2 linked regions of the Homo sapiens genome follow. The protein of the gene in region 2 interacts with the protein of the main gene of each other region in a biochemical or structural test. Each region holds a gene or a part of one and is shown on either strand. Other genes may lie near its edges. The genes, in order: SLC12A1 and OXSR1.

Region 1 (3,927 bases), on a different chromosome or scaffold from region 2:
CTGATATAGCCTCACGACATTAGCCTGACTGATTAGCATGACATTTACTTAACGAAGAGGATCTAAAGGGTTTTACTTAGGTGTCTCTAGACACTTCTATAATCCTGTATCAGTTCACTAACTTACCTTTACACTTATTTTTTATAGACAAAATATCTATCCCAATCTCTAATGATTCACCTCACAATCTTGTATGTGCTAAGTAAAAATCCCCAGCTAATTGTAAATAGCGCTAAAATAGTGAAAGCAAGCACTAGGTACAAATTGTTGCTGTTCTAAACCCCATACACAAACTAACTCATTTATTCCTCAAAATAACTCTACAACAAGGTAGGTACAATTATAATCCACAACTGCATTTGCAGATGAGAAAATTAAGGCACAGAAAGATTGAGTAACTTGACTGAGTTCACACAGACAGCAAGTGGCAGGGCCACGACATAAGTTGGGCCTTCTGACTTGAGTCTTGCTCCTAGCCACTATATTACACCACAACCGAGCTACTCAGACAACTGGAAATCACTTAAATCGTTTCTTATAAGAAACAAAGAGGACTCATTCAATCATCCTGATTGATAATCAGTGACAGACTTGAGGGAGGAATTGTTTGCAGTGTTAATAATCACCTACTTGCAGATCTGAAAAAGAAAAACCTTTTCCTCAACAAAACTCAAAAACTGAGTTGGACAAAAAAATGTTTTTCTAGTTGGAGACAGAAAGGTCATTTAGTAGTGCCACTGAGATGCTTACCCACAGTTTGGTTCCTGCTTAAAACAGTTTTCCCTGCTGGGCGCGGTGGCTCACACCTGTAATCTTGACACTTTGGGAGGCTGTGCCGGGCAGATTACCTGAGGTCTGGAGTTCAAGATCAGCCTGGTCAACCTGGTGAAACCCCATCTCTACTAAAATTACAAAAAAATTTAGCCAGGCGTGGTGGTGGGCGCCTGTAATCCCAGCTACTCAGGTGGCCGAGGCAGGAGAATCACTTGAACCTGGGAGACAGAAGTTGCAGTGAGCTGAGATTGCACCAGTGCACTGCAACCTGGGCAACAGAGCGAGACTCCATCTCAAAAAAAAAAAATTTTCCCATATTTCCCAAAATAGAAATATTTTCAATAAATCATTGATTCCACTCTTAATCTGCTTACTTCCCATGCAAAAGAGTCAAGGTAATGTCTACTACAAGCAAGATAAAATCATTTCAGACACTACTTTCTAGTTACAGAGTATAGAAATTGTCTCTGGAGAACTATATTTTGATACACATGCTAAACAATAGGAGGTCACTAGGACTCATCTGTAAGACGGTGGAACTCAATTTATCTATTCCCAAATGACTAATGGCAATGCTCATATTTTTTGGACAATTGCTGTTAAGGGATCCAATTCTCCTTATGAATTAAAGAAACTCTATGTTACTTCCTGTCTAAAAGGATTAATGGTTTACTACTAGTTACCAGTTGATGTGGTACTTAAGTTTCCTCAGGGCTAATGACCTGGTGGGGCTTACAGTACTATTCCAGGCCAATCATTGCACAGTCATCTCTTTCAAGAAAGTTTCTAACCAATAAGCAGAAGCCTAACTTTCTGGCTGAAAGCTAAGTGTCCCATATATTCCTGGGTGACGCTGAAGCAGGTTACATTTCCTCAGAAGAAGGCTCCTTGGTGGTAAGTTGAACATTTCTGGGCAGGGTAAAAATCATACTTAATATTATGTCATAAAGTAGATTCTGAGGAGTAGGTGAGGGTGTCAAGGACTATGAAGAGAAGTGTTTTGTAAAAACTAAAACGATAATAGCTTCATTTATAATTTCCCCAGGAAAGGTTACTTGAGAAATGAAGTTGAGGGTTTTTTTAATTCAAATACACAGCTTTAATAACTGCATGAGAGAGACAAGTTTTTATTTATATTTATCTCATTTTTCTAGAACTTCCCTTGAAAAGCCAAATTTTAAGGTATCAATAAGGAAATATAATTCTAAAGCAAGTGTTTTAAGACAGGCCAGTACTATGAAATTGCGAAAATTATTGTGAAGTCTATTCACCTCACAGTCAAATATAAACCTCTCAATTATTGAAGACATTTCATTAAAATGAGTCAGTAGAGCATGATTATTTTACCTAAACATAGCAGAGGACTTTTTTAAGGTATATGACTTATTTCTTATAGATATATGACTTATTTCTATATTCATATTTTTTTAAGGTTTCATGTTAGTATTTGCAAAACAAACAAATGTATGAGCAAATGAAACATTTGGATCTTGTAAAAGATCTAAGAATTCACAGAGACATCATCTTGATGGGATGTATTTTTTAAATGCATATTCTAAAACATAATTTTTTACTTGTTGCATAGGTAACAAAATTTGGAATTTATAAGTTGAACATGTACAGATTTTTATAAACTAGCAAGAATATATTTTTTAGAAGTTTTGTTTTTCATTTTATATGTTGTATAGTATATATTCCTAACAATCAAAATACTTTGCAGTTTCAGCATTTAGTACTGTCAGTGAACTGTGTCTTAGGCTGAGAATATTCTCATCAGCTCTTACTGTATTCAATAAGTAAAGTTACATCTTTTCTAAAGTCACAGTGAACTCCAGTGCACTGAATTCAAGCAAATACTACAAACACAGGTAACATTTTAATGACTGCATTGGAAGTTCTGTTTGCTGGAACAGTTTTCCAGTTATTTATTATCAGATTTAATTACTCACATGACTAAGGTTCCTGGACAGATAAATTTTAGTGAAATGAGTTTAAAATTGTATGTCTTGTAAAATAAAACTGTTCCCTTATATCCCACCCTTACCTAAATATATTTGTATTACTTGGAACAAGTTTAATTTTCTTTTTCAATGACAGCTTTGAAGAACATCCTGAAGATTATATCGGAGACAATATATCAAGAATCTATTTATTGAATCATCTAGAACAAAAGCCAGGAGCTCCCTAATGGAAGCACATTAGTGTTTATTTTGATGAAGAAATATATAGATTTTTTAAAACAACCACAAAGTAGATAGCTCAGTAAAAAATCAATTTTGGAAGATGTCACTGAACAACTCTTCCAATGTATTTCTGGATTCAGTGCCCAGTAATACCAATCGCTTTCAAGTTAGTGTCATAAATGAGAACCATGAGAGCAGTGCAGCTGCAGATGACAATACTGACCCACCACATTATGAAGAAACCTCTTTTGGGGATGAAGCTCAGAAAAGACTCAGAATCAGCTTTAGGCCTGGGAATCAGGAGTGCTATGACAATTTCCTCCAAAGTGGAGAAACTGCTAAAACAGATGCCAGTTTTCACGCTTATGATTCTCACACAAACACATACTATCTACAAACTTTTGGCCACAACACCATGGATGCCGTTCCCAAGATAGAGTACTATCGTAACACCGGCAGCATCAGTGGGCCCAAGGTCAACCGACCCAGCCTGCTTGAGATTCACGAGCAACTCGCAAAGGTAAGCTTGAAGGACACAAGCAAGTCTCCTCCCTTATTCATAACTTCAGATAATTTCCTTCTCTTTCATTACACTATGAATGAATGTGAAACAGTCAAATGGAGAGGTCTATTCCAAACACTATCCATCTTACTTACAAAACTGTCCCTAGTTCCCAGAAAAGTGTTTCACAGATGCTTTTTCTTTGGATTTTTTTTTTTCTTGAGACAAAGTCTTGCTCTGTCACCCAGCCTGAAGTGTGGTGGACACTGCAGCTTTGAACTCCTGGGCTCAAACAATCCTCCCACCTCAACCTCCTGAGTAGCTGGGACTGCAGGCATGCACCACCACACCTGACTAACTTTTTTATTTTTTGTAGAGACAGGGTCTTGCTATGTTGCTCAAGCTGGTCTCGAACTCCTGACTTAAAGGGATCCTCCCACCTTGGCCTCCCAAAGAGATGGGATTGCA
Region 2 (3,827 bases):
GGCAGATCACTTGAGCTGACAAGTTTGAGACCAGCCTGGCCAACACAGTAAAACCCCGTCTCTACAAAAAAATACAAAAATTAGCCGGGTGTGGTGGCACACGCCTGTAGTCCCAGCTACTTGGGAGGCTAAGGTGGGAGGATGGCTTGAACCTGGGAGGCAGAGGTGAGCCATGATCATACTGCTGCACTCCAGCCTGGGCAACAGAGCGAGACCCCACCTCAAAAATAAATTTTTTAAAAAAGAGAGAGATAATGTAAAAGTAGATATTCCTGTCAGGAAAAAATGAATTAAATGAATCAAATCAAATGAACACATTTTCTCCTAAATTGTGCCCAGCCATCACTATAATAGGCTTATAGTCTAAAGATTTTAAAGTATATTTTAGTAAGGTTTTGCATTCACTGAAGAAAAGCACTAGCCCAGGCTGTTTTGAAAGATGACTAAAGTATTGTCACCTGAACCACACAAAACATAAGAATTTACAATTTTGTTAACCCCTTTTCTAAATAAGGTCTCTTGTCAGAGTCATGTTGAAAATTAACTGGCAAAACATCTGTAAGAATAGTCATCATCATAAAAATCATGCTATTCTCTCCATACAAAGATGAAAATAAAGACACTGCCATATGCTTCAAGTAAGTATTCAAGCAGCCTGATGGTTTTGCAATGAATCATCACTCGCTCTCCTGTTCACTCTGGTGATCTCCCATCTGAGCGGATGGCAACTCCATTCTTCCAGATGCTCTAGCCAAAAATCTTGGAATCATCTTATCTTCCCTTTCTCTCACATCTAATCCAACAGCAAATCCTCCTAACTTCAAAAAATATGCTATATCCAGAATCTGACCACTTCTCACCATCTCCACTACTACTTCTCTCCCCTGGATAACCTCCTTCCACCCTTGTGCCCTTATAAAACTATTCTTCATATTGCAGCCTGAGGTGTTTGTTTGTTTGTTTTTGAGACAGTGTCTCATTCTGTCACCCAGGCTGGAGTGCAGTGGCGCCATCTCGGCTCACTGCAACCTCTGTCACTCGGGTTCAAGCGATTCTCATGCCTCAACCTCCCGAGTAGCTGGGATTACAGACATGCACCACCAAACCCAGCTAATTTTTGTATTTTTAGTAGAGATGGGGTTTCACCGTGTTGGCCAGGCTGGTCTCAAACTCCTGGCCTCATGTGATCCACCTGCCTCCGCCTCCCAAAGTGCTGGGATTACAGGTGAGGCACCTCGCCCAGCCTGCAGCCTGAGTTTTAAAACGAAAGTCAGGTCACGTTAAATCTCTGTTCAAAACCCTGCAATGATTTTCAGTCTTACTCAAAGCAAAAGCCAAGTTCCTACAACAACTTACAACCTGACAATCAGGACCAAGCATCCATACCACCTTACCTTTCTAACCTCTTCACCTATCTGTCTCTTCACCTTCTGATTTACTCTGCTCTAGCTGCCCTCAAACCTCCTTAGCATTCCTTAATCACATTAGCATGCTTCTGCTTCAGAACCTTTGTTCTTGTTGTCCTCTGCTTGGAACAAACTTCCTGCAGATAACCACATCATTCACTTCTTCACCTTCTTCAGGTCTTTCCTCAACTGTCATCTTCTCAGTGAGGTTTTCCCTGACCTAAAACTGAAACCCCACCTCCACCCCTAGCAGTCCCTAACCCCTTTCCCTGCTTTTTCTTCTTTAGAGTTTCTAGATTATAAACTCTGTGAAAGCAGGCATTTTTTGTGTTTGCTTCATTGTTTTATCTCCAGCATCCAGAACAGTGCCTGGCACATAACAGGAGTTCAAGAAATATTTGCTGAATGAATTAATCACATAGTGGGGTATATTTTCAAGGAAAAAAAATCTTGTTTGGGGCAGAACACACACAGAAATAGCCCAGTCTTCATGGGTGTTATTTCATCGTTACCATCATGTACATTAACATTCACTGAGCATCCATTCTGTGTGCCAAGTCTATGCTGAGCACTTTCTTTACTTACATTTCTTCTTTTCATCTAATCATTACAATAATTCCATGTGATAGGTATTCATGGTCTTACAAGACAATGTAAGTAAAGCAATGTAATTAAGGTAAAACTTAGGTCATACAGTTAGTTAGGCAGAGTAGGGCCTAGAAATAAGAACTACCTGAGTTTCAACATTATGCTCTTAATCAGTAGGCAACTACCTCTTCAGATTAAAGCTAACATTTATTAACTGATTACTATGCATCAGGTTAAATTATTTACTTGCAATACCCTATTTGACTATTTTCATTTTAAAAAAAAATGAGGCCAATATTCTTAGTTGCTTAGCAAACATACAATTTCCCCTTCTTTAGTAAGATAATCCTGACCTATTTTGTTTGAAGTAATAATGTGTCCAGCTAAAGCTTCATTTTGCAGTCTGCCTTGCAAATGACCAAATTATACAGTTCTGGCCAGTAAAATAGAAGTGGAAGTCACTGAGTAAGGCATCTAGGAAAGAAAGCCTTTTAAAAGAGAACCAACTCAGCTGTCATGTGTCTTTGTCCTTTTGCCATATTCTTCTGGACAAGAACACAAGCATGAGTCTAGAGGTGGAACAACCATCTTCCAACTATGAGAAGGAGAGTCACCTGCTAAGTGTGGTCGCATGAAAAAACTAGGAGCCTGGGTGCCTGACAGCACCTAGGCTGCCACCTCCAGTCTTCTTGTTATATAAGGGGGAAAAAGGATTTTATTAAGCCACTATTATTTCCATTTTCCCCACATGCAGAGAAATGTAAGCCTTATTTGATACAACACTATGAGGTTGTTGGCCCAATGCTGGCCTCATAGAAAATGTCACCTTAGCTGAGTCTCCCAATCAATGGAAAAATACACTATTAAGCACCACTCTATTGAAAGCACGAAGTCCTTCACATTTATGGAGGCGCTAAAGGTAAGGCCCTGGAATCTGTATTTGAAAACCACAACTTTAAACTCAAAATGTGTGGCTAGTAAACAATCAATGAAAATAAAAAGAAGGGAAAGTCAAGAATAGAAATATATTGCACTGCCTTCAAAGTGTCAAAGCTAGGTGAATCACACCTTAAACCTAGTATTAAGTTTTCAATTTTCTAGTCTGAGGTAAATAGTAAATACTTATTGAGACTTTTCAAGATGCAGGGCAATAAAACCTAACTGGCACAGCCCTCTCTGCCATCATATTGTATTATTAGCAATATCATGGTGATGGTCCTTACAGTTATACTACGATGTCCAACATAAATCCCTAAATCCATCTAAACCTGAATGAGGCCTGGACTAAGAAAAAAAAAGATGCGAAAATAAAATAAATGCAATAATGTTCCACTAAGCATTAAAAACAGATTCAAACTATTTTAAGTGTCACAAGCTTTCACATCACATAGTATTTCATATTTCATGGCAATACCAAAAATTGGGAAATATGAGGACAAGGGGAAGGGTAAAAAAAAGTCAGAGATAATAACAACTATCATTTTATACAAGCTAAACACTTCCCACAAATAATTACACTCAATCTATATAACGGCCCCAGTGACATAGGTACTATTCTCCCCACTATACAGACAAAAAGCTGACACGGAAACTAATCATATAATTTGTCTAAGATCACATAACTAGTAAGAGGCAATGTCAGGATTTGAATCTGGGTCAGTCTAACCCCAAAGCCCAAATTTTTACAGCTGCTTCAACACATGCCAAATACAGTATAACACATGCTCAGAAATTCTAATCTAAGACTAAGGGCTCAAAAATACTGAAAGATCAATGATTAATTGTGAGAATGATACTAACATCTTTTACACATAATCATACTTAAAGAACTTC

What was found.
Region 1: the proteins of OXSR1 (region 2) and SLC12A1 interact in a test that uses a peptide from one of them, tested with the Homo sapiens proteins (one large-scale study listed by BioGRID and IntAct).

What each region holds. Positions count from the first base shown.
Region 1 is NC_000015.10:48,204,663-48,208,589, forward strand, and holds the start of SLC12A1 (solute carrier family 12 member 1), read left to right. Parts: upstream 1-1,639; 5' UTR 1,640-1,668; intron 1,669-2,871; 5' UTR 2,872-3,057; coding exon 3,058-3,477; intron 3,478-3,927. UniProt on the Homo sapiens protein: Renal sodium, potassium and chloride ion cotransporter that mediates the transepithelial NaCl reabsorption in the thick ascending limb and plays an essential role in the urinary concentration and volume regulation. Electrically silent transporter system.
Region 2 is NC_000003.12:38,171,720-38,175,546, reverse strand, and holds part of OXSR1 (serine/threonine-protein kinase OSR1), read right to left. Parts: intron 1-3,827. UniProt on the Homo sapiens protein: Effector serine/threonine-protein kinase component of the WNK-SPAK/OSR1 kinase cascade, which is involved in various processes, such as ion transport, response to hypertonic stress and blood pressure.